3 separate regions of the Homo sapiens genome follow, and regions 1 and 3 are each linked to region 2. The links come from fine-mapping of genetic effects on gene expression. A gene starts in region 2. Each other region holds a variant in brackets. All regions are shown on one strand. Distances are between the middles of the regions.

The links. PIP is the estimated chance that this variant, and not a neighbour inherited with it, causes the effect. A credible set is the group of variants that fine-mapping cannot tell apart.
Region 1: its variant is the best candidate, but not a certain one, in a credible set for the expression of WARS2 in spleen (GTEx, PIP 0.51).
Region 3: its variant is the best candidate, but not a certain one, in a credible set for the expression of WARS2 in subcutaneous fat (GTEx, PIP 0.56).

Annotation. Positions count from the first base shown.
Region 1 is chr1:119,052,822-119,063,803 of GRCh38, forward strand. All of the region lies in intron 2 of WARS2 (tryptophanyl tRNA synthetase 2, mitochondrial), which reads right to left. It overlaps WARS2-IT1 (WARS2 intronic transcript 1), which reads left to right. Exons shown (of 2, transcript NR_126447.1): 2 at 10,033-10,466. Among named protein-coding and RNA genes, the nearest start is that of WARS2-IT1, 11 kb to the left of the region's middle. RefSeq lists a silencer at 7,512-7,712. The variant C/T (reference allele first, on the strand shown) is at 6,714.
Region 2 is chr1:119,135,337-119,146,318 of GRCh38, forward strand. WARS2 (tryptophanyl tRNA synthetase 2, mitochondrial) reads right to left here and starts at 5,317. Exons shown (of 6, transcript NM_015836.4): 1 at 5,219-5,317. The coding sequence starts at 5,308. WARS2-AS1 (WARS2 antisense RNA 1) reads left to right here and starts at 5,060. Exons shown (of 7, transcript NR_125975.1): 1 at 5,060-5,457; 2 at 6,411-6,477. RefSeq lists an enhancer at 5,089-5,398.
Region 3 is chr1:119,032,489-119,041,743 of GRCh38, forward strand. It overlaps WARS2 (tryptophanyl tRNA synthetase 2, mitochondrial), which reads right to left. Exons shown (of 6, transcript NM_015836.4): 5 at 1,607-1,725; 6 at 1-871. The coding sequence ends at 423. Among named protein-coding and RNA genes, the nearest start is that of WARS2-IT1, 10 kb to the right of the region's middle. The variant C/T (reference allele first, on the strand shown) is at 3,968.

The DNA.
Region 1 (10,982 bases), 83 kb before region 2:
TGCTTTATAGATCTTTTCATTCCAGGATCCAAGTTGAACAAATAGCCCCTATCTGAACATTCTGTTCTCATGTCAGAAGGAAAAAGAGCAAGAGAGCTAGAGCAAACATGCAATGGCTCTTAAAGATTCTTCCTGAACATGGTGTACATCATGCCCACTCACTTTCCACTGGCTAAAGTAAACCACATGGACAAGTCCAACATCAGTGGGACAGAAAGAGATGCCTCTCCCACAGGAGAAGTCACAAGGCAATGGGTGAGGACATATAATCCTCCGAAGCAGGGGTCAGCAAACTACTGCTCCCAGGCCAAATCTGGCCTGTGGACTCTTTCTGTTCCACCCATGGGCTAAGAATGGTTTTTGCATTTCATAAGAGTAATCAAATTTTTTTTTAAAAAAGAAGAGGAAAAATGGAGAAGGAGGAGGAGAAAGAGGAGAGGAAGAAAGAGAAAAAGAAGACAAGGAAGAGATAGTAGCAATGGCAGTGGCGATAGAGACTACGTGCTGCCTGCAAAGTCTAACATGTTTACTATCTATCCTTTCACAGAAAGTTTGATAATCTCTGCTCTTACAATAAATAAAAATGAATAACTGGGAACAATAATAATCTACCACTAGTACATCCCCCAAATTAGCTACCATGACAAAAAATAAGAGAATTGACCTGTAGAGAAATTGATGGCAGACAGCTGATTTTTTTCAAACCTATCTTTTCAGTAAGATTGTATTTAAAATTTCTATGTTGATATATTTGATAGCCCCAGGAACTTAGGTCCAACAAAATAATAAAGGTTTTTTGAACTACATCGAAATTTAAAACTTCTCTCCATCAAGGGACCCAATCAGCAGAGTAAAAAGGCAACCTATAAAATGGGAGAAAAATATTTGCAAATCATATGTCTGGCAAGCAGTTAACATCCAGATTATACAAAGAACTCTTAAGGCCAGGTGCGGTGGCTCACCCCACTAATGCCAGCACTTGGGAGGCCAAGGCAGGAGGATTGTTTCAGCCCAGGAATTCAAGACTAGCCTAGGCAACACAAGAAGGCCCCATCTCTATCATCCCCCAACCAATTTTTTTTTAAATTAGCTAGGCATAGAGGTATGTACCTGTAGTCCCAGCTACTCAGGAGGCTGAGGCAGAAGGATGGCTTGAGCCCAGGTGGTCAAGGCTGCAGTGAGCTATGATAACACCACTGCACTCCAGCCTGAGCAACAGAGAGATACCCCCTATCAAATAATAATAATAATTAAATAATACTATTTAATAAATTATAATTTATTTAATTATAAATTATTGTTAAATAAAACAATAACTATTATTATTAAATAAAACATTTTAAATAAAGGACTCCTACAAATCAACAGCAAAAACAAAACTAAACATCAACTCGATTGAAAAATGGGCAAAGGATTTGAATAGGCATTTCTCCAAAGAACATATACAAATGGCCAACAAACATATGAAAGAGATGCCCAATCTTACTAATAATTAGGGAAATGCAAATCAAAACCATAATGTGATATCACCTTATATCCACTAGGATGGCTGCCATATATATATATATCTCCCAGAAAATAGTAAGTGTGGTGAGGATATGGAGTAACTAGAACTCTTGTATACTGTTGATAGGAATGTAAAATGGTGCAGCTGCTATGGAAAATAGCATAGCGATCCCTCAGAAAATTAAAAATAGAATTACCATATGATTCAGCAGTTCCATTTCTCATATATATACATAAGAATCAAAAGCAGGGTCTCAAAGAATATTTGTACACTCATGCCCAAAACAGCATCATTCACAATAGCTGAAAGATGGAAGCAGCCCAAATGTCCATTATAAGATGACTAGATAAATGAAATGTACAAACATATGATGTAACATTATTCAGCCTTAAAAATTAAGAAAATTCTGACACATGCTACAATATGAATGAACTTGGAGGACATTATACTAAATGAAATAAACCAGCCACAAAAAGACCAATATTGTATGATTTATCTGTATGAGGTATACATTTGAGTAGTCAAACTCATAGAGACAAAAGGTAAAGTGGGAGTTGCCAGGAACTGTGGGGGAGAGGGGAATGAGTTATTGTTTAATGGGTATAGAATTTTCAGTTTTGCAAGATGAAAAAGTTCTAGAGATTGGTTGTTCAACAATGTGAATATACATTACAGAACTTTATACTTATAAATGGTTAAGATGATAAATTTAATGTGTTTTACAAATTTCAAAAATTTTTAAAAAGGTATATAAAAATATAGATGAAACGTATTTCTCAAGTTGGAAAAAATGGTAAATTTTATGTTATGTGAGTTTTGTTTCAATAAATTGTTTTTAAAAGTCACATGGAAGGGCTGGTTTGAGGCAAAAAGGAAAGGTCTGGTTTCAGATATGCTGAACTTGAGACTTTGAAGATATTCACAGAGATGTCTAGAAGATAGCTGGTAATACAAGTCTAGAATTAGAGAGAAACGAAATGGCTAGAAAAAAATCTGAGAAGTGGTCAGGCATGGTGGCTCATGCCTGTAATCCCAGCACTTTGGGAGGCTGAGGAAGGTGGATTATCTGAGGTCAGGAGTTCAAGGCCAGCCTGGCCAACATGGCAAAACCCCATCTCTACTAAAAATACAAAAAAGTTAGCCAGGCATGGTGGTACAAAAAGGTTAGCTGGACATGATGGTGCGCACCTATAGTCCCAGCTACTTGGGAGGCTGAGGCACAAGATTCACTTGAACCCAGGAGGCAGAGGTTATAGTGAGTCGAGACCATGCCACTGCACTCCAGCCTCAGCAATAGAGGGATAGTCTGTCCCAAAAAGAAAAAACAAACAAACAAAAAACAGAGAAGAAAGGCAAGAAAGAAAGAAAAGAAAGAAAGAAGAGAGAGAGAAGGAGGAGGAGGAGAAGAGGGAGGGAGGGAGGAAGGAAGGAAGGAAAGAAAGAATATCTGAAAGGAGAAAGAAAGAAAATCTGAAGGGAAATAGTCAAAAGTTATGGATTGGAGGACAATTTTGGGGGATTAAAGAAAAGCAGTTGATAAAAGAAACAAACTATCAGTATAGGGAACATGATACATCAACAAATCAAATTATTAGTTTACGGAATAAAACTCTGAGCAGGCTGTTTCTTGGTTGCATTGTGAATACATGATTCAAAGATCAGATGAAAATTTCATACCATAACTTTTTTTTTTTTTTTTTTGAGACGGGTCTCTCTCTGTTTCTCTGCTGTCCAGGCTGGAGTGCAGTGGTGTGACCTTGGCTCACTGCAGCCTCGACCTCCCAGGCTCAAGCGATTCTCCTGCCTTAGCCCCACCAAGTAGCTGGGATTACAGGCAAGTGCCACCATGCCTGGCTAATTTTTTTTTTTTTTTTTTTTTTGTAATTTTAGTACAGACGAGGTTTTGCCATGTAGCCCAGGCTGGTCTCAAACTCCTGAGCTCAAGCGATCTGCCTGCCATGGCCTCCCAAAGTGCTGGGATTACAGGCATGAGCCATCACGCCTGGCCCATACCAATTTTTTAGCTGCAGTAAACTACCTGCAGTGTTCCCTACACTACACAATTCCATGGGCTTTCCTTCTTTCTTTTGGTTCATATAACAACATCCTACGAGCCTATTCATTTAAACATTATATATTTTTATAGTATATATTTAGTCCATATACATTCTATATATTTGTAGACTTAGACTATAGACTAAATATATAATATATATATATACTAAATATATATATTATATATAGTAAATCAAGCCCAGTGAGGCATACTTTATAAACAATAAGATGCACTCATTTTAGCTGTTCAGTTCAATGAATTCTGACAAATCTATACACCAATCAAGATACAGAAAATTTTGATTCTCCCAAAAGAAGTTCTCTCATGTCCCTTTGTACCCCTTGCTCTTGAAACCACTGATCAGTTTTGTTACTGTGGATTTGTTTGGCTTATTCTATATCATTTAAATGAAATTATATAATATAAACTCTTATGCTTGGCTTTAATACTCAGCATGTTTTATACAACTCTTTTTGTAGATTATTGGTAAAGTCTTTTGGGTAAATACCTAGGAGTAGAATTGCTGGGTCACGTGGTAAGTATACGTTTAACTTTGACAAACTGTTCTCTAAGGTAGATTTATCATTTTACAGTGTTACTAGCAATGTAAAATAATCCCAGTTTCTCAACATACTTACCAAAGCATAGTATTCTCAGTATCTTTAAGTTTGGTCATCCAAGTGGGTGAACTGGTATCTTACTATGGTTTTTTTTCTGACGACTATGATGTTGAACTTTTCATGTGCTTATTAGCCATTTGTTATTATTATTATCATTTTTGAGATGGAGTCTTGCACTGTCGCCCAGGCTGGAGTCAGTGGCACGATCTCGGCTGACTGAAACCTCTGCCTCCTGGGTTCAAGTGATTCTCCTGCCTCAGCCTCCTGAGTAGCTGGGACTACAAGTGCACACCACCAAGCCCGGCTAAATTTTGTGTTTTTAGTAGAGACAGGGTTTCACCACATTGGCCAGGCTGGTGTTGAACTCCTGATCTCGTGATCCTCCCTCCTCGGCCTTCCAAAGTGCTGGGATTACAGGCGTGAGTCACTGCGCCTGGCCCCATTTGTTACCTTTGTTTGTGAAATGTCTACTCAAATAAAGTGGCCATTTAAAATATTAGCATGGCCGAGCACAGTGGCTCATGCCTGTAATCCCAGCAGTTTGGGAGGCTGAGGCGGGAGGATCACTTGAGGTCAGGAGTTCAAGACCAGCCTGGCCAATGTGGTGAAACCCCGTCTCTACTAACAATATAATCATTAGCCAGGCATGGTTGCAGGTGCCTGTAATCCTAGCTACTCTAGAGGCTGAGGCAGGAGGATTGTTTGAACCCGGGAGGCAGAGGTTTCAGTGAGCCGAGATCCCACCACTGCACTCCAGCCTGGATGCAGAGCAAGACTCCATCTGAGAAGAAAAAAAAAAGAAAAAAAATTAGGTTGTCTCCTTATTATTAAGAGTTTTTTATACAGCTGGATAAAAGCCTTGCCAGATATATGTACTGTGAATATTTGCTCCCACTTTATGGGTTACCTTTTCATTTTCTTAATGGTGTTTTTGAAGAACAGAGGCTTTATCTTTTGATGAAATCAAATGTATCAATAGTTTCTCTTATATTAAGTGATTTTGTGTACTATTAAGAAATCTTGGCCTATCCTAAAGGCCTGGAAAATTTTCCCCATATTTTCTTTCAGAAGTTTCATAGCTTCAGATTTTACATTTAAGTCTGTGGTGGTTTTAAGTTGATCTTTTTTGTGAATGGTATGAGGTGAGAGTCAAGGTTCATGTTCTCCCTCACATGGACATCTAGCTGGAGACCTAACACCCTCTGCTGAAAAGACTATTTTTTCCCCCACTGAACTGCTTTGAACCCTTCATTGAAAATATTTGACCATATATATGTGGGTCTACTTCTTGATTCCCTATTTCTTTTTTTTTTTTTTTATACTTTAAGTTTTAGGGTACATGTGCACAATGTGCAGGTTAGTTACATATGTATACATGTGCCATGCTGGTGCGCTGCACCCACTAAACTCGTCATCTAGCATTAGGTATATCTCCCAATGCTATCCCTCCCCCCTCCCCCAACCCCACCACAGTCCCCAGAGTGTGATATTCCCCTTCCTGTGTCCATGTGATCTCATTGTTCAATTCCCACCTATGAGTGAGAATATGCGGTGTTTGGTTTTTTGTTCTTGCGATAGTTTACTGAGAATGATGATTTCCAATTTCATCCATGTCCCTACAAAGGACATGAACTCATCATTTTTTATGGCTGCATAGGATTCCATGGTGTATATGTGCCACATTTTCTTAATCCAGTCTATCATTGTTGGACATTTGGGTTGGTTCCAAGTCTTTGCTATTGTGAATAGTGCCGCAATAAACATACGTGTACATGTGTCTTTATAGCAGCATGATTTATAGTCTTTTGGGTATATACCCAGTAATGGGATGGCTGGGTCAAATGGTATTTCCAGTTCTAGATCCCTGAGGAATCGCCACACTGACTTCCACAATGGTTGAACTAGTTTACAGTCCCACCAACAGTGTAAAAGTGTTCCTATTTCTCCACATCCTCTCCAGGACCTGTTGTTTCCTGAATTTTTAATGATTGCCATTCTAACTGGTGTGAGATAGTATCTCATTGTGGTTTTGATTTGCATTTCTCTGATGGCCAGTGATGATGAGCATTTTTTCATGTGTTTTTTGGCTGCATAAATGTCTTCTTTTGAGAAGTGTCTGTTCATGTCCTTCGCCCACTTTTTGATGGGGTTGTTTTTTTCTTGTAAATTTGTTTGAGTTCATTGTAGATTCTAGATATTAGCCCTTTGTCAGATGAGTAGGTTGTGAAAATTTTCTCCCATTTTGTAGGTTGCCTGTTCACTCTGATGGTAGTTTCTTTTGCTGTGCAGAAGCTCTTTAGTTTAATTAGATCCCATTTGTCAATTTTGGCTTTTGTTGCCATTGCTTTTGGTGTTTTAGACATGAAGTCCTTGCCCATTCCTATGTCCTGAATGGTAATGCCTAGGTTTTCTTCTAGGGTTTTTATGGTTTTAGGTCTAACGTTTAAGTCTTTAATCCATCTTGAATTGATTTTTGTATAAGGTGTAAGGAAGGGATCCAGTTTCAGCTTTCTACATTTCTTTTCAGTGA[C/T]CTGTAAGTCTATGTCCATACCACACTCTCAATTATTATAGCTGTATAATAAGCTTCAAAAGGCAGTATAAGTCCTCTAGTTGTGTTTTCTTTTTCAAAGCTGTTTTGAGTATTCTAAACACTTTGCATGGCCTTATACATTTCAGATTCAGTGTGTCAGTTTATATAAAAATGTATGTTGAAATTTTCATTGCGATTGTGAGAAGTCTATAGATCAATATTTAAAAAAAGTAGAGATCATGTCCTTTGCAGGAACATGGATGAGCTGGAGGCCATTATCCTTAGCAAACTAACACAGGAACAGAAAGCCAAATGCTGCACGTTCTTACTTATAGGTGGGGACTAAATGATAAAAACACATGGACACATTGAGGAGAAGCACACACAGTGGGGCCTTTCAAAGGGTGGAGGGTAGGAAGAGGAAGAGGATCAGGAAAAATAACTAATGGATACTAGACTTAATACCTGGGTGATGAAATAATCTGTACACCAAACCCCCAAGACACAAGTTTACCTATGTAACAAACCTGCACTTGTACTCCTGAACTTAAAAGTTTAAAAGATAACATATTAACAATATTGAGTTTTCCAATCCAATCTAAAAACAAGGCTTTCACTTCTAGTAATGGCTACTTAGCTTGGTATCAGTCTTCTTGGGCTGCCATAACAAAGTACCATAGACTGGGCTGCTGAAATAACAGGAATTAATTTTCTCACAGTTCTGATGGCTGGAAGTCTGAGATGAAGGGGCCTGCATGGTTGTGTTCTAGTGAGTGCTCCCTTCCTGTCTTCCTGGCTTACTGATGGCTGCCTTCATGCTATAACCCCACATGGCAGGCAGAAAAAGAGAAAAACAGACAGATCTTTCCCTCTTCTCATAAGGCCACAGGCCTATCAGATTAGGGCTCCCTCCTTAGGACATCATTTAACCTTAATTACTTCCTAAAGACCCTATCTCTATATACAGTCATACTGGGGGTTAAGGGAGCAACATATGAATTTTGAGGGATACAACTCAGTTGATAGCAAGCTCCTATTGGATAAATTCTAACACAGATAGCAAGTTTCAACTCTGAGCAAAATATAAAAATCAACGGCCTGAAGGCATTGGAGAACAATCGAAAGCAGGCAGAAACTAGGGGTGTGGTTTACTCTTTTAAAAAATGGATAACACGGAGTAAGTGTCCTGTTTTGTGACTTTCTGTCTGAGGGCAGTCCTCAGTTGCAGACATAAAAAGCATCTAAATATGATAGAAACCTGCATTCTTACTGGCTTGAAGAATGAAAAAACAAAGTTTGGGTCACCATAATGCCTGGAAAATAAGCAGTGAAATTTCTAAATAAAGAGTCAGAGTGGTATAGCCTTATATTCTATGTATTAACTCTACCCAAGTATCTGGCCAACCCCTGAATTCCACATGCACGGGGCCACCTCCAAGCTGTCCAACAATGGCTAAAACAACTGGCAAAATATTTCAATTATTGCTTACTACTGGAAAGACAATTTGGGGCTTGAGCCTGCTAAAAAAACAACAGATTTTTATTTAAAGATATTCTTCAGAGGAATACAACATAATTTAAAATCTCTTCAATTTGTCATTTAAAATATTCAAGATACTAGCCAAAATTATTAGACATATTAAAAAATAGGTAAACAAAAACCATTCTTAAGAAAAGAGGCAGTCAATGGAGACCAAACCCGAGATGTTCCATATGTTGTATTTAATTAGCAAAAATTTTGAAGCGATTATTACAACTATGCTTAAAGATACAAAAGAAAATATTCCTGAGATGAATAAACAGATAGAAAATCTCAGCAGATAAATTTTTTAAACCAATAAAAAAGGGCCAATAAAGATACTAGAATAAAAACATACAATATCTGAAATAATATCATTATAAAGTCTTAAACACAGATTGGGAGGGCAGAAGAGTCACTGAATGAAAAGATAGATCAGTAGAAATTAACCCACTTAAGGAAGATAGAGTTAGAAGATTGAGAAAATAAAGGAACATAGTCTCATGAAACTACATATTTAGGATCAGGAAGTTGGATGCTACCTTCTCCCTTAGGGAGAAACTAATTCCTCATAGTTATTTTTACAGCATTAAAGTGTTCACAGGTTATTGCTCTGTCTGTAAGTACAGAAATGGTAGTAGAGAATCAAAAGAGCAGCAACATGACTGATCTAATGGATTCTATTAGTTAATGGAATCTAGTAGCCAACTGAGTAAGCAGGTTAACAAAACATTTTCACCTGCTCCATGAGACTCTGACTCTGGATCAACAACCTAGGTCTGTATTTACCAGATAAAACAGTATGTGTTAACAACACTGCTAGGCAACATTGCTTATGATAAAAATAATCCCCAGCTGGTAAAGTACATCTAGGCTTAGAGAACTATAAATACCTGAGAGAAAGTAATAGTTTAGGCTTTCCTGAGTATAGTGACCCTTGTAACTGGTACATCTCTTTCAGTGACCCCAAGGTCTATATATGAAATGTAAAAATAGATATTGGCTCTTGTGGAAAACTGAGGCTTCTTTGGTAAGGGAGATTGTACCACCCACTGATGTAGATCTCATCTCCTTGCATTTGAGCTGGAGAAAAAATAGTTCCTACACCTATGAGTACACCTGGAGAGAAAATACCTCCTGGAGCTAGCTGCCTACTGCTACAGGGACTGCTCTAGTAAGGACTCTTGTTTAGAGAAGCTACCTTGCTGGCAAGCTAAGGTTCTTGTTCTATGCCTTTTTAAGTAGACTAGTACCAAACATAACCTGTGGTGGTCTCATGATTCTGAATATTTACTTGAACCTACAAAGATAGCATGGTGGCCACTGGAGATGAGCAATTAAAACAGTGGTTTCCAAAATGAGATTTGTGATTCTCAGAGGCTGTGCAAGACTATCTCCTGAAGCACAGCAAATAAAAAAAAAAGGACTTTTACTTATATTCATTTTTTAATCCCATATTTTAAATTTTTGCTTTATACAAAAGTTGTATGATTGATATGGTTTGGCTGTGTCCCCACATAATCTCAACTTGAATTGTATCTCGCAGAATTTCCACGTGTTGTGGGAGGGACCCAAAGGGAGGTAATTGAGTCATGGGGACCCGTGTTTCCCATGCTATTCTCATGATCGTGAATAAGTCTCACTAGATCTGATGGGTTTATAAGAGTTTCCACTTTTGCTTCTTCCTCATTTTTCTCTTGCCACCTCCATGTAAGAAGTGACTTCTGCCTCCTGCCATGATTCTGAGGCCTCCCCAGCCATGCGGAACTGTAAGTCCAATTAAACCTCTTTTCTTCCCAGTCTCAGGTATGTCTTTATCAGCATCATGAAAACAGACTAATACAGTAAGTTGATACCAGTACAGTGGGGCATTGCCGAAAAGATACCTGAAAATGTGGAAGTGACTTTGGAACTGGGTAACAGGCAGAGATTGGAACAGTTTGGAGGGCTCAGAAGAAGATAGGAAGATAAGGGAGAGTTTGAAACTTCCTAGAGACTTGTTGAATGGCTTTGCTCAAAATGCTGATAGTGATATGGACAATAATGTACAGACTGAGGTGGTCTCAGATGGAGATGAGGAACTTGTTGGGACCTGGAGCAAAGGTGACTTGTTATGTTTTAGCAAAGAGACTGGCAGCATTTTGCCCCTGCCCTAGAGATTTGTGGAACTTTGAACTTGAGAAAGATGATTTAGGGTATCTGGCAGAAGAAATTTCTAAGCAGCAAAGCATTCAAAAGGTGACTTAGATACTGTTAAAGGCATTCAGTTTTATAAGGGAAGCAGAGCTAAAAGTTTGGAAAATTTGCAGCCTGACTATGCAAAACCAATTTTCTGGGGAGAAAAGAGAAACCAATTTTCTGGGGAGAAATTCAAGCCCGCTGCAGAAATTTGCATAAGTAGCAAGGAGCCTAATGTTAATCCTCAAGACCATGGGGAAAATGTCTCCAGGCCATGTCAGAGACCTTCACAGCAGCCCCTCCCATCACAGGTCCAGAGGCCCAGGAGGAAAAAGTGGTTTTGTGGGCCAGGCTCAGGGTACTGGTGCTGTGTGCAGCCTAGGGACTTGGCGCACTGTGTCCTAGCCACTCCAGCTGTGGCTGAAAGGGGCCAAGACAGAGCTCGGGCAGTGGCTTTAGAGGGTGGAAGCCCCAAGCCTTGGCAGCTTCCATGTGGTGTTGAGCCTGCAGGTGCACAGAAGTCAAGAACTGAGGTTTGGGAACCTCCGCCTAGATTTCAGAAAATGTATGGA
Region 2 (10,982 bases):
ACAAGCAGGGCTAAAAATACTCCTCTGCTTCTTAAATCAGAAAAGCTTTGCTTTTATCTGTTTTATATAACAGGGATTCATGTAAGATTTCATTTGATAAAAGACTACTGGTAAGGTGGGAAAAGCATAGGCAAGACTAGGTTTGAACTGTGTCACTGCTATTTACTTACTCTGTGACTTGGGAAAATTACCTAAACTCTCTGAATCTTAGTTTCCTCTTTTATAAAATGGGATGAATAATATTTACAAATTGTTGTATGAAGTAAATAAGATAAAGTATGTAAAACACATACCATGAGACTTTAGCACATAGCAGGCACTAGCTGTTAGTTCCTTTTCTGAAAGACATGGAATATAGAGATAGATAGATTAGATAGACAGATAGATAGATAGATAGATAGATAGATAGATAGATAGAGAGATAGAGAGAGAGAGAGAGATGGGTTTTGGGGTTTTTTTGTTTGTTGGTTTTTCAGACAGGATCTTAACTGTGTAGTGGCACAATCGCTGCTCACTGAAGCCTTCCTGGGCTCAGGTGATTCTCCTACCTCAGTCTCCTGACTAGCTGGGACTACAGGCATATGCCACTAAGCCCAGCTAATTTTTTGAATTTTTTATAGAGACAAGGTCTCACTATGTTGCCCAGGTTGGTCTGAAATTCCTAAGCTCAAGAAATACACCTGCTTCGGCCTCCCAAAGTGCTGGGATTACAGGCGTCAGCCACCGTGCTTGGCCAATAGATGTTTAAATAAATAAATAAATAAATTTGTATAAAAAATATATATTTGTCTGTGTGTGTGTGTGTGTGTACATATAGTTGTAGAAGCTTCTGCAGACAGCTCTTCTGTAACTTGCAGTCATTCGAAAGATATACTGAGCAAGAATTTGGAGGTCAGCAGCATCACTCTCTTCAGCATTTCCAGGCCATGGCTGCCGTACTATCTGCTAGCATAAATCCTCAGCATTCAGCTACAGTTCTTCCTTCCTCTATATTTTCAACAGTTACTATCAGTAGTTTTCATTAGCTCCTCAAAGCTATATTGCAAAGAATTTAAATATTATTATCATTTTAATAAACTAGGTCAGTTCACAAAAGCAACCAACCACAAAAGCACTTTAAACAAATAAGACTCACCGACTGAGATTAAAAGGAGCTTTAGAGTGGATCCACGCAACACCTTTTTTTGCCATGAGAGATGAAGTAACCTCATCAAACTGGCAGAGTAATCAACTAGCAAAATTCCCAGATGATTGTAGTAGCTCTTGAACACATACCATGCTGATTAGCTCATGTTGCATGTTGCATGAACAATACATGGCAGAGAAAAGCTAAAAGTCAGTGGGAACACTATGCCAATTTAATGTCATTAACATTCCAGAAACCTACAATAACAAATACTAATTGCAAAATATGGAATGAAATGCCTACATTAAATCTTACGATCCTAATTCCACCATTGTGTGACATTGGGCAAGTTACTTAACCAAAGACTATTTCTTCACGTTTGAAATAAGGTGGCAATACCTGCCTCAAGGCCTTGTTATGAACAATATCTCTTCGTGGTATTCTTGCCAAAAATCCATAACCTCAGTCTAAACACAAAGAAAAATCAGACAAACCTAAACTGAGAGACATTCTACAAAATAACTGACTGGTTCTCTTCAAAAGTGCCAAGGTCATGAAGGAGAAAATGTATGCATTAGAAGAGACATGAAAGCTAAATGCATTGTGGGACCCTGGATTTGATCTTGGACTAAGGAAAGGGACAGTGAAAAAACTAGTGAAATTTGAACTAAGTCTGTAGCTAAATTACTATTATTGTACCAATATTAATTTCTTGATTTTGATAACTGTATTATGATTATTCAAGACAAAGCTTGGTGAAGGGTATACAGAAATTCTCTGTACTAATTTTGCAACTCTGTAAATCTAAAATTATTTTAAAATTAAAAAAATTTAAATCTTGTGAGAATTAAATACAGGGTCAAAAATTTTAAACCACGCTTTTTTTCTTTTTAGGCGTAATTCTTCATCTAATGGCTATACTTAGCGATAGTTAACAGCAAGAACATTATGTGAATACTGGCCAAACCCAGACTAGGAACCGCTAATAATGAAACATGTTCAACTGCAATAAAATGTGGACACTTTATCATACTTCAACTGAATAACAAATACTTTTGCAAAAATCTACTAACCATCAATATTTCACTCTTTGCACAATACAATCATGACTTAGTGCTTAAAGAAGTATGGATTCTGTGTTTGGCCAATGATGACAGGCTTAAATTTACCTAATACCATCAACATTTAAACAGAACATGTCAGATCTTAACTCCTCTGACTTTATGACTACGCTCATCTTGTCAGATTTCAACAGTTTTCTGTCAGGCAACACCTGGCAAAATAAACCGTTTTCATATAAATTGTAGACATCCCATAATGAGTATGGAGTGATGTGCTGTTATTCCTGTTTCTCCCTGTTTTATTTTCAACTTGAGTTTACATCTGCATCCTCTGAGATAAGCAAAGATGCCCTATGCCAACATTTTTACCCAAGATTTTGTTTTAAAAAAAGAAAACACTAAAAACCATTAAAACAACTTAGGAATCACAACACTTTATTAGTTAGAGTTTCTAACATAGCACTGTTATGGCTCATTCACTTTTGCTTTACACCTAAGGGAGTAAGTGCACAGCCAAGGCTAATAAAAACTAACTTGGCTATTTCTTGGTTTTTGATGGAACCATTCATATGATAAATATACATTTTTTCCCATTATACTATACTCTTGCAAAATAATTTTTTTCTACAAAGGTTATGAGATATCATAAAAATGTCTAATGCATCTGGTTTAAGAATCCAATGCCTCTTTCACATATTTCTGCATCTGTTCACAAAATCCCTTTGACTTCAAAGGAAGCTTTTCAAGAGAAAAAGAAGATACATACAGGAAAAGTGGCCATAAATTTTTAGTAGTCCTTTTCTAAGGCCATTTTAATAACAGCATTGTGGGACAAGTATCTTCCTCAGAATCCTAAAATATCACAAATGATATTAATGACTAAAGATCTGTATAAAGATTTATGATTTCAAAACGTTTTTCTGGTTATTAAAAAGTGTGTGTCTTCAATTTAGACATGTGAAAAATATGTAATGCTATAAAAGGAAACAAATAACTTTTAACCCACTATTTAGGAAGGCCAAAGCAAAATAAAAAAGTTAAAAATGTTTGTTCCCTTCCAGGCTTTTTTTCTATGTATACGTTTATATAAACACTTATATATAAACATAACATCGTAATAACACTATGAACACAATTTTGTATCTTTTCTCAGTCTTTCAAAAAACCACATTAATCTTTCAAACCATCATTTTCAATGACTGAAATTATATGTAGATTTATACTTTAAAAAAATACTCTCACATTTAATACTTATTCTACTCAAAGCTAAATTAAAGGTTTAGAAACATTCATCGGTACTGGAAATTCTACATCTTGAAACAATCTAGATTAATAATTAACTTTAATAGCCCTATTCATAAATGCCACTGAAACAATAGTAGAGGTTTAAGAAATTTTTTCTTTAGCATTTATAATGACTTAGTGTCTTAAACTTCCCTGGGCAGTCATTAGCAGGCTGCAGTTTGTCTTTTTTTTCTCTCTCTCTTTGATTCTCTATTCTCAAGACATCTTCAATTCTTTAGTTTGGAATAAGGGGAAGTTTGGGTCTACGGCTTAGCTACTTTGATAGCATAGGTGTTAATGTGCTATAAATTATAAATAATCATCTCATTCTAGTTCTGCAGAATCAAACCCTCAAATTTCAAGGAGAGGAATTTTTGATAAATTTATCTAATTTTGAATTGTCTTACCTAACATTGCTGCTGAAATTTAAGGTGACATTTGAATAGTTGTTTGCTGACAAGCAGCTTTCCGGTATATATTAATATATTAGCTTATAAGAATTTTGTGAGGCTCACATTAATAAAAAACGGAAGTTCAAAAAATTTATGACATGACTAGAAAAATAAGTTGAACTTAAATTTTGGTTTTCATAATTACTCTCATTGGCTTTGTTTTGGCTTCATAATCATGGAACTATAGATTTTCCAGAGGTTGAAAGAACATTAACGTGTCAATCAGTCCAGCTCTCTTCCTCCACTCAATATGAGCAAAAAAAGAAGAAAAGTCCCAGAGAGATTGTGACTTGTCACACAGCTGTCAAGTGGCAGACCAAACCCTTGACCTCTAGGCTACCTTCCTGTCTAGCGCTGTTTTCAACACAACAGTTACAATAGGTGCGACATCCTCACACCTACTCATTATGGCAATACATATGCAAATGATGCCGGGAAATTACCTAATAAAATCACATTCTCTCCTTTCTCTCTAGTTCCCAGAATATATCTCCCGTAGATAAAGTATGTCAAAGTGCTTGCCACTGAGACTGTACTTGGAAGACGTTTGGTAAAATCCTGAATAACTGAAAGGGTATCCCCTCCCCCTGACTTTTTTGCTATGAGGGTAAAATTCCAAATATTTAAGACAATTCCCAATAAGACCAGGCCGCGACATGGTCTCCGTACGACGAGATTAATGGTAACAGCAGTGTTGTCAAGCGCAGGACAGGACAAACTCTGTAGCAGCTTGCGGTCACTCTTTCACAGCCTGCTAGATAGAGCAGTGCTGTGGAGCCACCAGGAGCAACCAGAATGGAAGATGCACTGACACTTGCTCAAGTACCACACTGCCAACCTGCTGCCCCGACCCAAGCTGCCCAATGCCTAACAAAACTTCTCTACTCTCTCCGATAGCCCCTTAGCGTGTTGTTAGGGTAAGGAGGGTAAAAACAGTAATAAGACCACAAGAAGAGCAGTCTCTAAAACAACCCGTCTCTGAAAACATCACACGCGGGGTAGGCTCACCGCGTTGCCCGGCAACAGCGGCGGCGCTCCGCTCCCAGAACTGGAGGTGGCGGCAAGAGGTCAGAAAGCGGCGCGCTTTTTCCACCAAGAAACCTTTACGTCATCACGTATCCTTGCAACGTCACTACGCTCTGAGCAGGCCGACAGTCATAGACGAGTAGACCTTAGGCGAGGGAAGGCATGTACTTTCCCTAAGAAGCGGGAGGAGAGAAATAAATAGAGGGCAGTGGGATGAGAAGAACCTCGCGGGATGGGAAGCCGCGGAGGGAAGGGCCGTCTTTGGTTACCTGGAGAGCGGGAGCAGCTGCGGATCCCTTATGAAGTGCCCGGATGAAGCTCCAGCGCTCACGCGCTTTCCGCATTGAGTGCAGCGCCATCTTGAGAAGGGCGGAGCCGTCTTGTTTGGAATGACGTCTGTTCAGAGAGCCAATCCCAGTCTCGCGACTCCTGCTTGCTGGGCGCGGCTTGGGCCTCCAGGCTGCGCAGCGCAGCCGCTATCGGGCGGACTGCAGTTCTTGCCGAGCAGGTGGGGACAGGAGCGGGGTGGGGCTTTAGTGTTTTTCCCTGGATCCCTTGTCTGCTCAGCCTTCCTGGAAGGAGAATTTCCTTGGGGGTTATTAGTAGCAACGCTTTAGACTGGAAGAAAGTCAAGTAGGCTGCATTTCTGATCTTAGCTATGTGAAGGCAACCTTTAAAAAGTTTGTTTAGAAACTCCCAGTTCTCTTAGAGGGTAATATAAGTGGTCTTTTTAGACATGTGTGGCCTCATTTCCCTTTTTTTTCTTTGAGACAAGGTCTCACTCTCGCCCAGGCTGGAGTGCAATGGCGCGATCTCGGCTCACTGCAACCTCCACCTCCCAGACTCAAGCTATTCTCCTGCCTCAGCCTCCTGAGTAGCTGGGACCACAAGGGTGCGCCACCACGCCCGGCTAATTTTTGTATTTTGGTGGAGACAGGGTTTCACCATGTTGCCCAGGCTCTCTCAAACTCCTGAGCTCAAGCCAAGCCATCTGCCTCGGCCTCCTAAAGTGCTGGGATTACAGGCATGTGCCACCGCACTGGACTTATGTGGCCTTATTTCATTCGTCCTGTAAACTTTGTTGAACCCTACCGTAATGTGCTGGGCACTGAAGGTACAGAGAAAGACATATCTTGTCTTCAAGTTGTGTACAGTCTAATAGAGTAGCGGATAAATAAATGATGTACACTTAATAGGTGTTAAAGAAGCAAGCACCGCAAGTTTTAAGGAGGAGTGGTTATGACTGTGGTGTTTCAACCTAGTCTAGGGAAGGCTGCAGGAAGGTTATACCTGATGGAAGAAATTGTTTTGTTTGGGGTTATGAGAAAGTTTAATACAGTTTTTCTGCTTCTGTTAATTCACCTAAAAATCTCCCAGACAGATAACGAGTGTTTCAGTAAAAATATAACTGGAAGAAATTCATGACAATTCCTTTATGTGTTTTGTTTATAATTCATCCAGCTACTGAAAATTACCAAGGAGAGGTAGGAGATAAGAGATGCCTATAAAGGAGCTGAAATCTACCAGGGTAAGACAAAACAGTAAATTAAAACCATATAGGATAATCTTGTAGGTATACAAAGTACTGGTGAAGTTCAAGTATAATTGGTGTAATTTAGAAGTGAGCAGGAAAGGGATGAAGGCAAAAAAAAAACTAGGAAATCAAGTTATAGTCTTCAACAAAGCTGATCAGTTTGGTTTTGGCTGTTAAATTTGAGGTGCTTGTAGTACTTCCAAAATGTGATGCCCATTAAATAGATACATGGGTCTGGAGCTCAGAAGAGATTTGAACTACCAAACAGATGGTAATTGAAACCAAGGAAATCCTTGAGACCATCAGATAGAGTTTGTGGAGTGAAAGTAGCCAGATGATGGAAATAAAGGAGCCAAGAGGTGTTGTAGAACCCAAAGAATGTGATATTACTGAGACCCTGGAAACAAACCTTGCCAGGGGAAGGGGGATATATGTTATGCCTTGTAAAATGCAGTTTAATAAATGCCCTACATGTTTTACTCATACATAGAGCAAAGCATTATAGTACAGTGTTTTACATATATTTTATTAATGAGATTACATGACCCTAGCAATTAGCAAGATTAGCTTTCTGACATCTTTAGTCATCTAGATAGCAAGATAAAACCTAGCAATAAGACTATGGTGCACCAAAAGCTGTCAAAGGGTGTACCTACTTTATTTCTTCAAGAAGTAGTTCTTAGTCGTATCTGCAGACTCCTATGACCAATAATATTTCCGTGGGAGGTATTTCCAAGACATAGTCCCACTAAAAAAGGTGGGACTTTAAGACCACAAGTTTTATAACTTTAGTATCCTGATTTTTAAAATTGAAAATATTTGCTAATTTTTAGACTTTGTTAGAAGTAATAAACTGTGTTTTGCACCGTGGCGGTGACCTGGTAACTCTCAGGTGTCACTCAGCCAGCCTTGCTTCTTGGACAAGGACTATAGTTTATATTTCTAACATCTCCCCCAGCACCTAGAATAGTCTCTTATGCAGAGTAGGCACCTCTTTTAAAAGTAAATTGGATTTTAACAAATTACACAGCTTATTGTCAGCAATTGTTATGCTTTTAACAGCCAGAAGGAACAGTTAACAGAAAAGACACAGGATGTATTAAAAATGAACCAGTTCTGTCTACTTTTGTACTTTTTCACAGTAAGCATTTTGGTGTTGGGGAAAGTATGACTACAAAGCTCACCATCTTCTAAGAGGAGGAATATATTCAGCTCAGTATATTTAACGTATTTTAATAAGTTTTTAATAATGGTAACCATGACTCCTCGGGGAAAGATATATTATTCAATGTATCTTTGAAGAAAAAACCTACAATACACTTTTGAAATGTTTTCATACAAAATGGTTAACATTTAAAAGTGTGTATATATCATGGGCTGGGCATAATGGCTCACACCTGTAATCCCAGCACTTTGGGAGGCTGGGGCGGGCAGATCTCTTGAGGTCAGGAGTTCGAGACTAGCCTGGCCAACATGGTGAAACCCCATGTCTACGAAAAATACAAAAATTACCCAGGCATGGTGGTGTGCGCCTGTAGTCCCAGCTACTCAGGAGGCTGAGACACGAGAGTTGCTTAAACCAGGGAGACAGAGGTTGCAGGGAGCCGAGATCAAGCCACTGCATTCCACACTGGGCAACAGAGCAAGACTGTCTCAAAAAAAAGAAAGAAAGAAAAGAAAAGTGTGTATTATGCAGTTGGTTATATGGAAAATTCTCCTATGGAATAATTCATTCTCCAACAGTGGTGTTTAAATGAAGCACCACTGTATTTAATGACGGTATTTTACCACTGCTATCATTTGAGTAAGCTAAAGAACTTTGGTAAAGTAAGATATAAATGTTGTATGGAAAGCAGACTTTAAACATACCTAAGATTAAAAAGTTTTATAGTCCTATCCTTATAACGTGAACTATATGTCTACATATGTTCATGCTTACAATTTTGAACACTTGTTTAAATTTTGATTTCTCATCAACACTTTTACTTTATAGTAAGTTCTGGTAATTTTGTTCTCTCCTTAACATTCCCTGCAAATCCTCTCCTGCTAGAAACAACAGATTAAAACCAGACTGGCAGTTGGGAAATGGTTTCTATTGCAACCATGTGTGTCAGAAGAAAGGATTAGGTTTCCTTGTCCAAGAACATCAAGGGGAACCTCCACCTCTGCAGACACACCTCTATTCCTTAGTAATGGAGAGTTTATACCTAGTTAGATTTAAATGGGATAAGGGAAGAGTTTAAATCCATTCTTAGCTCAAGCAGTATAATCAGCCCTCAAGTCTCAAAGTATCCAATTTTCTTTCTCTAATTTAATTCTAAGTGTCAGGTTGGTATTAGATGCTGATCAAGGTAATGGAGAGTTGCCCTACACATTTATTCACTTAAAGAAGAATTTTGCAGACTGCAAAGACTAGATGGCAATTGTATTCAAAACTTACTTAAAGCACAATTCATTCACCCCTGACCTTTCATTTATATTGAGTATGTTTTTTCAAATATAGAAGAGATTCCATAATAAAAGCAAACAAACCTCTCTCTTCATAATTATGGACTATAGTTCTCTGTACATGTTCTCTGACCATGCCATCTTATGCTGGACCTATTATAAGGACCCAAATTAAAGTGAGGCAGATCCTGCTTTTGAGTGAGATAACCTCCAAGAGTCATAAAAGTATATGGGAAACTGTAATAATGATTATTCTTTTTTTACCTTTGGCTTAACTTTAGTTCTTCCTCTTATTTTATAACTAATGAAACTTGTCCACAGATATTAAGTACCTTGACCAAAATCACACAAGTAAAAGCAACAATGAGAAGAACCTTCGGCTGGGCGCAGTGGCTCACACCTGTAATCCCAGCACTTTGGAAAGCCGAGGTGGGCGGATCACCTGAGGTCGGGAGTTTGAGACCAGCCTGGCCAACATGGTGAAACCCCATCTACTAAAAATACAAAAATGAGCCAGGCATGGTGCTAGGCACCTGTAATCCCAGCTACTCGGGAGGCTGAGGCAGGAGAATCGCTCGAAACTGGAAGGCGGCAGTTGCAGTGAGCCAGGATTGTGCCACTGCACTCCAGCCTGGGCAACAAGGGCGAAACTCATCTCAAAAAAAAAAAAAAAAAGAAATCCATCTCCAGATGAATGTTCTACTTTGACACCACAGTAAAGCTGAAGAGGCTAAAGCTAGGGCGGGTCCAAATGGGGAAGGTTCCACATAAAGCCACATCCTTGTGTCAGGTTTCAAAGTCAGAACAAGCAAATGTCTTATTTTTAAAGGCTGATACTCTCATCTCCACCCCTAATGTAAAAAGATGTTGTCTTTCCCTAGTAGTTTTTGGGAGAGAGCAAATTATAGCATCTTACTGTAAGGACAATAATCAGAAGCTCATCTTACCTTTGGGAAGGCTTAAAGGGTTTTATAGGGAGTCATCATTGTCACTTTATTTCTGGAAGAAAGGGCAAAATCCAAGAAGAGACTAAGTGATGTGAATAGCAAAATGGGATTTTTCTCAGAGCACTTTTTTCTTAAGATTAAGGGTCAAGGCCACACTTTTTATATTGCCAGGTTCAACTTCTTGCCTTAAGGACAATTTTCCACCCCACAACAGTGAAGATATTTTGATGAGAGTTGAGAGAAGGTGGGGAAGGTGGGTAGAGTCAGAGCAGACACAAGTGAATAATATGCATGAAAACTGACTCCATTACAAGTAGAGTCCTTAGTGTTCAGAACCAGGAGGAATACTGATTACATAGGAATGTTACAGGCCCCAGGATTCCTGTTCATATTTAATGTTTTCTCTCCATACTCTTACAAATGGCCATTTGAACATTAGAGAACAGGTCTTTAAAGAAGGCAGAGAATTGCTCCCTTGGGTATGGATCTAGAATAGAGAATAATTTGGGAGAATTGTAAGACTATTTCAATGGTCCTTATCCCCATTTTTCATCATCAGTCTTAGGACATGTATCCCATAGAGGAAATACAACTTTAAAATTAGCAAAATTCAACTTTTGAAAGTGTATTTTACTTTGTTGTCTCTCTTTGCATGGTGTATCTTTTCCACTTGGTATGGTCCTAAAGACAAGATCCTTATGCTATCTGTACACTTACTCTATTTTAAAATCACCATCTTTTGCTCCCAGCTACTTTATAACTTGGGGGAGCAGGGTTTGCCGTTCAAAGCTTATCTTTTACAAAAGGAACTTTAACAAGATCTCCAAAAAGCTCCCTCGAGTGGCTTTTAGATAGGCTCTTTTCTGTTTGTCTTTGTAATCAAACTACATTAGATCCTATCCAACACCCTGTCTATCTAGTATGATGCTATGATCCTAGGTGTGACTACTGAAAGTAAAACATAATGCTTAGATCTTGATATTTATAAAAACATGATTAAAAGATATCTCTGCCTCTAAAAATAGGGTCTTGACCTCACTGTCTCAGTCAAATTCCATTTCAGCCAGTGAGATTTCACTGGACTTCCCCAGATGCATTAACAAC
Region 3 (9,255 bases), 100 kb before region 2:
AAGGATTATACATCTAAGACCTCTATATATTGCTTTATAAAAGGGTTGAAGTAGATAACGTGTGCATCTGTTACAGTAAGTACTCCAGAGAGAAGCACAAATGATACTCCATTTCCCAAATTACTCCTTACTTCAATCACATTTCTGCAGGCCAAGGAGTGTGCCTCAATAATTGGGGATTCAGACAGCTATGCCTTCTTGATTTATTTTTTGTTGTTGTTGTTCACAGCATTTTGTTGATGGGATTTGGAACACTGTCGTATTTCAAAGCTACAAAGCAATATTCATCAAATAAAGCCAATAATCAGCTATACCAAATTAAATGTCCCAAAACTATAACTTTTTCTTTTTAGGAAAGCTGCCGTTATCAGAATGCATGGAGTGCAAGGCACAAAAGCCTTGCTGTGATTCGTTGAAACTTCCTATAGAAAACCCACCAATTTCTTCACCTCCTGGCACACAGTGTATGCTAATTCTTTGGCTTTTGCTGATCCAATTTGTAAAACCTTCTCTAAATGGTCCTTGTCCAGCTTCAGTTTTTCAATTTCACGCTTAATTGGGGCAAACTTCTCAATCACAGCATCTGCCACGGCCAGCTTGTAGCGAGCAGTGTTCATGCCCGCGCTGCGGCGCACCACTTCCTCCACGGAGAGCCCCGTCACCGCGGCATGCACCGCCACTATGTTGGACACGCCAGCGCGGCCAGCCGGGTCATAGGTGACCTCCGAGGTGAAGTCTGTCACAGCCTTGCGGAATTTCTGCACTATCTCCTCTGGGCTGTCTGTTATTCGGACGGTGGCCAGTTTGTCAGGGTCTGATTTCGACATTTTGGCAGAAGGATCACGTAGGGATTTTACCTTCTTCATGGATGCTAGGTTAAAAACACCAACACACACATACCCAAAACAAAAACAAAACAAACAGATCACCAAGATGTACACACAGACAGTTCCCAACTTGCAATGGTTTGAATTATGATTTTTCAACTTTACAGTGGTGCAAATGTGATATCCATTCAGTAGAAACTGTACTTGAAATACCCACACAACCATTCTGTTTTTCACTTTCAGTATAGTATTCAATAAATTACATGAGATATTCAATACTTTATTATAAAATAGGCTTTGTGTTAGATGATTCTGCCCAATTATAGACTAATGTAAGTGTTCTGAGCACGCTGAAGGTGGGCTAGGCTAAGCTGTGATGTTCAGTAGGTTATGTGTGTTAAATGCATTTTTGATTAACAGTGTTTCCAACTTACAATGGCTTTATCAGGATGTAACCCAATTATAAGTCAAGAAGCATCTGTTCATACTTCATAAATTATATACTACTTTATAAATATTATTTTAAATTTTTGGTCTCTTCCATACTTTTAAAATATTTTTAGTTATCCTTTTCAATAATCCAACATCTTTTTCAGGAATCCAACGTAGTCTACTTTCTAGTCCTACACTAGAGAAAACAATGAGGACTCTAGTTACAGATCCTGAAGCCTGTCTACAAGAAAGCTGAGGTTAGTCCCAAGAAAGTTCCAAGCCTATCTATTGTCCAATCCTCTCTTTAGAATATACCCTGATGTAACAATTATAAGTTTCTTACTTACTGAGAATGGACTCGGGCACTGGAAAGAACTCCCCATACTTCTTGTTGAAACCTTGTGCTAGATCCTGAACTAGTTCCATGTGCTGGACTTGATCCTCCCCAACAGGAACGTGTGTGGACCTTTAATAAAAGACAGACAGAAAAACAACAGCAAGGCTCTTTCTTAGAGACAGAAATGATATTGCAAGCAGCTGCATTTCCTGTGAATATTTCACTGTTGGTATTCAACAAATGTTCACCAACTATAGAGGGAATGTTTAGACCTAAGTCTTTATCTATGGATCAGACAAAAGCCAAAGAGATGTTTCTCTACTCTAGTTGTGTTTTTTCCACAGCAGGGGAATACAGCCATCAACACCAGCATGACAGGATCTTGCTGGGAGGGAGGAATGGGATTTTAAATAGCATATGCTCTAGGCACAATTGTGTTTTAAAACTACTCCTCATTCCCTCACCCAGTCAGCACATATTATTCCCAGCCCTGACCAGATGCTCTTTACCTCAGAACTACAGCTCATACTTGAAAGACACCCCACCCCACTCTTCAAATCAAAGGCAGCAGAAAGTTCTTCAGGCAAGAGTTTTTCCTCCCTGTCACATAGGGAGTAATTCAATATTCTTTGGAGTAAGCTTCATTTTCAAGTACATTGCAATCACAGGACAATTAATATGTTGCAGAGAACTTAAAATCTATAAGTACAATGTAGATGGCTATCAAAAACTATGTGGGATGAAAAAAGCAAGTTGGAGAAAACATGAAATACACTGACATTTACGTAAATTTTACAAGTGCCTATGGAAATATATCTGTAATAATAAGTAAAAAAACATACTGGAAGCTCCTCCCCAAATTTGTAATTGTAGCTGCTTCTAGAGAAGGTGGAAAGGAAATAGATCTGAAGAAAAGAACAAAGGAGACTTGAATTTTATCTGTAATATTTCATATTATGAAGAAATGAAGATGTGAAACCAAAAATATCAGAATATAGGGAATGACTTCATCATGAGTTTAATCCCATATGTAAAGTTTGCAGTGTCAGATCATGACATAGTACATCAAATAAGGGAAGAATGAACCATTATAGAGAAGTCTTGATGAGGAAAATTTTATACTGAAGCAATATGGCGGGATTAAAAAACAGGCAATTTTATACATGCAATGCTTGGCTGGGAGTTTATACCTGATAATACAAGTAATACAGTGCGCTGAGGTTTTTTTAATCAAAGAAACAATATTGCTCCTGTGAAAAAAGCAGCGAGCCATCATAGGCAAGTTTCTTACCCTTTCTAAGCCTTCGTTTCCTCTGTAAAGTGAGGTTCATCATGGAGCTTACCTCATATAGCTCTTTCATGGATAACACGTATACTAATTGATAGTAAGAGCTCAATAAATGGTTGCTATTGATATAATATATAACTATATATTCATTAATATCTGACATGATGAAGGACAAATAAAGGTAAAATGAAGGACAAATGGTAAAATAAAGATACTATAGAGAACCTTGATGAGGGGTACACTGACTTTTTTCACACCAGATCATTTTCCTTTTTCAGAGCTGACATACCACAAATAGTAATGCATAATCCCAGAGATAGTCACAGACCTGGGCAGTGATCCTGATATGCATAGAAAACTTACTTGAAACTGACAGTTCACATATCTGATCAGGTAATCCCAAAATATAAATGGTATGTTACAGGAATTCTGAGAGCTCTTTTAATTTAAGGAAAACAAGAACAGAACAATCAATGGAAAGGCAAAATGTAAGGACCATGACAGCAGACCCAGAGTGGTTTCTCTTCTTCTAAGGTCAATAAGTGAATGTTGGCCAGGTGCATTGGCTCACGCTTGTAATGCAGCACTTTGGGAGGCCAAGGTGGGCGGGTCACCTGAGGTCGGGAGTTCGAGACTAGCCTGACCAACAAGGCGAAACCCGGTCCCTGTTAAAAATACATAATTAGCTGGGTGTGGTGGTGCATGCCTGTAATCCCAGGTACTCCGGAGGCTGAGGCAGAAGAATCTCTTGAACCCGGAGGCGGAGGTGGAGGCTGCGGTGAGCCAAGATTGCGCCATTGCACTCCAGCCTGGGAAATGAGTGAAACTCTGCCTCGAAAAATAAAAATAAAAATAAAAATAAATAAGTTAATGTGGGAAATTCTACAGAATAACTATTAGGGCCATAGCCATTGCTCTCTTCCACGCAGCCTGGAGTAGAAAGCCACTGGATCAGTGAGTGGCAAAAACAAAAATATTCCTTTTTATGTTTTCCTCAGCACTCATGGTCCTACATGATACTCCTCTCTGGGATGTACATGCAGACACCCCACCTTTGTAACTTTCTCTTCTTTGAGTGGACTT[C/T]GCTATACCTGTCTTGTAATTATAGTGAGGCTGACATGCAGAGGTCACCTTGACGCCCCCAAGCCAAATTAGCCAACAGAGCAGATTAGAAAGCAATTACAGTAGCCCATAGGAAATCACAATGGACTGCAACCAACACAGAAAAAACAATTACCATAATCAATACACTTTAAGCACATCAAAATGAATATTTCCACATGTCAAAATGGTTCCAGATTCACAAAGCAACCAAACTAAACAGAAAACACATTTAGTTTTCATAATGACTCTGCATGCATCTTTGCCTGATGTCGGATCCTTGCCTCTTTTTTAACAATTCTGTGGGGTTTTGCTTTTTAAAAACAAAAAGGATTTAAAAAATTTTAATCTTTTTCATCTGCCCCATTGCTCCACTTGGCTTTTTCATCTGATTTTAGTGTGTTTGTTTCTAGCCTTCCCTCCCTGTGCTCCTGCTGCTCCTTTCACCTCCTATAATTTATCTTAGCCTTTACTTCTCATCCATTGAGTTTACACTTTACATTAATTCATCTTGTCTTTGATTCTACTCACTTATGTGCCTTATTCTCTTCATATTTTCAGCCTTTCTCCTCAGTCTTTCTTTCACTTCAAATAATTTAGTGCTGTTCTTTAAAAATTTATACCCTGCATAATGATATCCCTTTTAATGTGTCTTCTCTTTTTTTCTGTTTTCCTTTTTTTTAAGTTACTCTGACTGTGCTTTCTTAGACACAACATAAAACAAAAGCCTTTCATAATTTTGATTGTTATAACTTCTGTCATATAATAATGCCTCTGATCTTCTCCTTTGGTGACTAAACCATTTTTCTTTTGCTTAGTTCCTTTTTGCATCTATGATACTTGAGATCACCCCACCCTTCTGGCAGAATTAGTGTCCAGATGAATAAACGTTGCCTACATATATCTGCTCACAGAGATTTGTTCTCTTATTATTTCTTTTTCTACTTTTTTGGCTGTGTTTGTAAGTTTTCAGTGCTGCTGCCTTTAACCAGCCCGGCTGGGACAGGAGTTTGGTGGTGTTTTCTTGTCATAAAGGATTAATTCCTCATGACTAGTTGCTTGTAGGATATGCAATAATGACTCTCTAATTCAGCAATTACTTATTGAAGACCCACGATGTGAAAGTCCTGGTGCTGGGTACTGTGAAAGATATAATGAAGGGTTTACTTTCTAAAGATTTAAGGCCACCAGGAGGAGAGATAATACCCAATGAAGCTTTAAATTCTTCTGGCCAGTCCTCCTTCAGCATCCCCTATCTCAGTGAATGGCAATGCTATCAATCCAGTTGGGTAAGTCAGAAATATCGGGTCATCCCTGACACCTCCCTCTCATACACATCCAGTCCTATCAGTTTTACTTCCTAAATGTTTCTTATATTTGTCTACTTTTCTGCATCTTCACTGTCATCATCATGGCCCATATTAGACTAGTGAAATAGCCTCTAAATAGATGGCCCCAGATATTCTTCTCTTCCTAAAACTCATTCTCTGTATTTTAATCAATTCTCTTTTAAAAGTATAAGTCATATCAAATTTGCTGTATCCTTAAAATGTACAAATAGCTTCCTGTTACTTTTTAGAGAGTGTACTGGATTATCTGTTGACATCTCAGCACCATTCTCTCCCTTCTATGCTACCTCTTGATTTTCAGGGGCTGCAGCCTGGAAACTACATTTTTCATACTGCCTTTCAGTAGGGTTCTGGTTTGGTGTAGGCATTTGCCTAATAGAGGTAAAGTGGAAAGAGAAAGATAAAAAATTATTGCTTAGGTAGAGTGGGTGAATATGTGGATATGAGCAGACTACAGAAATGAGTAGCTTCCTGCATCTCGGAAAAATCCAGGCTCAACCGGCCTCACAAAGAATGAAGCACTTCAAGAACTGGAAGTTTCCAAGGCAGCTATAGGAAATCCAGCATTCTTAGAAAAAGCTCTCAAATGCTGTTTTATGACAGTCTCAAAGAAAGAGAAATAATAATAATACAAAGCTCTCAAAAAGCTTATTTTCAATGGTCCTCAATGGCAGTAGCCTGATTCTTAGACATTATGATGACACCTCTTCTCTGACTCTACCAGTCTGAAGTTTCTGAGCAATCATTTTACTCTCTATACTTTCTGGGTTTTGGTTTGGTTTGGTTTCTGCCTGCAGTTTCTTGAGGCCTCTGTTTTCTCATTTTTCTATATCATTTTTGCTTTTGTTTTCAGTCTTCTTTTTGTTTTTATTTTTTGAGATAGAGTCTCACTCCGTCACCCAGGCTAGAGTGCAGTGGTGCACTCTCAGCTCACTGCGGCCTCCTCCTCCCGGATTCAGGCAATTCTTGTGCCTCAGCCTCCCGAGTAGCTGGGACTACAGGCACACACCACCACGCCCGGCTAATTTTTTGTATTTTAAGTAGAGACAAGGTTTCACCATTTTGGCCAGGCTGGTCTTGAACTCCTGAGCTCAGGTGATCTGCCTGCCTCGGCCTCCCAAAGTGCTGGGATTACAGGCGTGAGCCACTGTGCCCGTCAGTTTCCAGTCTTCTTATCCTCTTCCCAAATTTTTCAGATTCTTGAGAAAGATAATCTGATTAGCCCAGATACTCACTTTCATCTCTATCTGAATGAATTTAGTGGAATCTCTCTGAAACTTCATTTCCCCATCTGTAAAATGGGGATAATGCCACCCACTTATTTCATAGCCCTATTGTGAGAACTGAATAGATAATGAGTGTGTAGCAGTTAGTAGATGCCTGGCAAATAATTCTCAACACATGTCAAGTCCTTCCTTTCCTTTCCCTCAAGGCCATGTATAGTGCCCTTTTTCCGGATCAGTGGCATTGTAGGTACTTAGCAACTATTTGTTGTTGTTTAATAAAAATTATATATGTATGTGTGTGCCTTTATGTGTATGTGTGTGTGTATATATATATGTATACAACACATATATATAACACATATACATACACACAAACAGAGAGAGAGAAAAAGAGAGAGAGAGAGACATATACACAGAGAGAGAAAGGGGAGAAATAAACATTTACTTAATACATAGCCAGCTATTTGAAATTAGGCATTTGGAGAAATAATACAGATGCAAAATAAAAACTATGAACACTTGCTATTTTTGAGCATTGGAATATTTTGTCTGTATTCAAATTTCTTGTACTTATCATACTCTCAAGCTGAAGATGGTCTCAGCTGTCCATTCCAGGGTTCCTTACCAAGTTCTGCCAAAATAGTTACATAAATCTTTTATAAACTTATCTGAAAGGCTCCTCTTCCATTCCTTTCTATTATGTTTGTTTTCTGACCCACCATGCCACTCATTCTAATGATGATTTTGACAAAAGGAAACACTAATATTTGGCTTGCGTCAAAATTTTATGAAGAGGTCACACATAGATTTGCTGATAGGAAAAAAAAAACACAGATGTTTTATCCACCCTTCAATCTACCATTCTACCTGTCTACATTTATAATACAAATATTCATAGACATTCTGGCAATGACCTTTTTCAAAATCCAGAAATGTGTGGAACAAAGCAAAACAAAAACAAATAAAAATACCTTCAAGTGCTTCATCTCTGTTATAGGGAAAACAATGATATAGCTTAAAAATCAAACCTGAGTTTAAATCCTGACTCTGCTACTTATTATTGAGCAATTAGGAACTTCTAAACTTGAGAGAAAACATAATGAGACAAATACAAAATGTACATTAGCAGAAAAAGTGCTGTAGACCCATAGTCTTGCCCAGATGTTCCAAAGTCAACTGACTGGCTACTTAGCTTCAGGCAAGTTGTTAAACCACACTGGACTGAAGCTGTAAAGCAATGGAATTAAAGAAGAGGCTCCTTAAAGCTCCTTCCCATCCTTTGCTTCATGGTATCATTAAGAATGTAGTCATTCTTGTTAAAGTTTATGCTTTTCCATAGCCCTAAACTCAGAGGACTCTTCCATTACAGCTCTTGAACTATTAAGGAAACCTACCACGCTCATGTGTTTTCTTATTCTAGTGCTGACAATTCTCAGGTTTTGTTTTTTGTTTTTGTTTTTGGAGCCAAGGTTTCACTATTTTGCCCAGGCTGGGCTCAAGTGATCCTCCCGCCTCAGCCTTCCAAGTAGTTGGAACTTCAGGCATGCAACATCACACCTGGCTAGCCTTTGGTTCTATAAAGAAGTAGGCCTTGAAACAAAATTAGACAACATTGTAATTATCAAAGACATAGTCATCATTAGTCATAACCAAGTAACAGCTCCTAGTCACAGTACTGCCTGGCCTATATTTCATTTTAATCCTTTAATAATCCTGTGCTTAATAATTATTCCCGTTTTACAGGTGAGAAAGTCAAGTTTCTTCACAGAACCTTTACAAGCAAATATCCTACCTCTCTAGAAAATGTATTATTAAGACTTTCATTATACTTTCATTTGTTACTTATTGGAGAATATTGTTCTAGCCTTTTAAATAAGTCAAAAGCTACTTATTACAAATAATAAATGTTATCAAGAGTCCAGCATACAAGTTAATACAACAAACAGACAAATAAGCCTTGCAAGTTTTCATCAGAATTGAAGATAGGCTGCATGTACTCATGGACATTCCCTGTTTGTAGAGCTAAGCAGCTGCTCTTTTGGCCGTTTCCATCATAATTGCACAAGGGCTCTGGAGTCATGCCACGAGGTACAGATACTGTCATCTTCATGCTATTATCAGACTTCCATGCAAAGAATTGCAATTCACAGCTTTAGGGGAAAGGGATGCAAAAACACTGGTGCAGTGTCTTCTTTTCCCAGAAGCTTTCACAGTAGCATGGCCCTAAGCACATGCCAATTGGGAGGCTTTATCTCTAGAAGGCCAAATGGGGGTCAAGGGAGGCTGATGAGGGGTTTGCACGGAAGAATTGAGAGGGGGATGAAATCAGAAGCCCTGGCCAGTAGTACAGCGAGTGCAGGGATCAGCATCCTCAGGTGTATATTTTTGAGGACTTTAAGTGGCAGCAGTAGCTGACTGGATGGATTAGGGGTCCAGGAAAAGTACAGGTACCCTACATCATATTTTAAAAACTTGCTCTCAACCTGTAGGTCTAATACAGTGGTTATTTAAATTTAATTCAAATTAAATAGAATTTAAAGTTCAGTTCCTCTGTGGCACTAGCAACACTTCAGGTGCTCAATAGCCACACATGTGGCTACTGGCTACAGGATCTAGCACAGACATAGAAGATTTCCATAAACACAGAGCATTCTATTGGACAGCATTGCTTTAGAGTCTAGAATATATAAAAAAT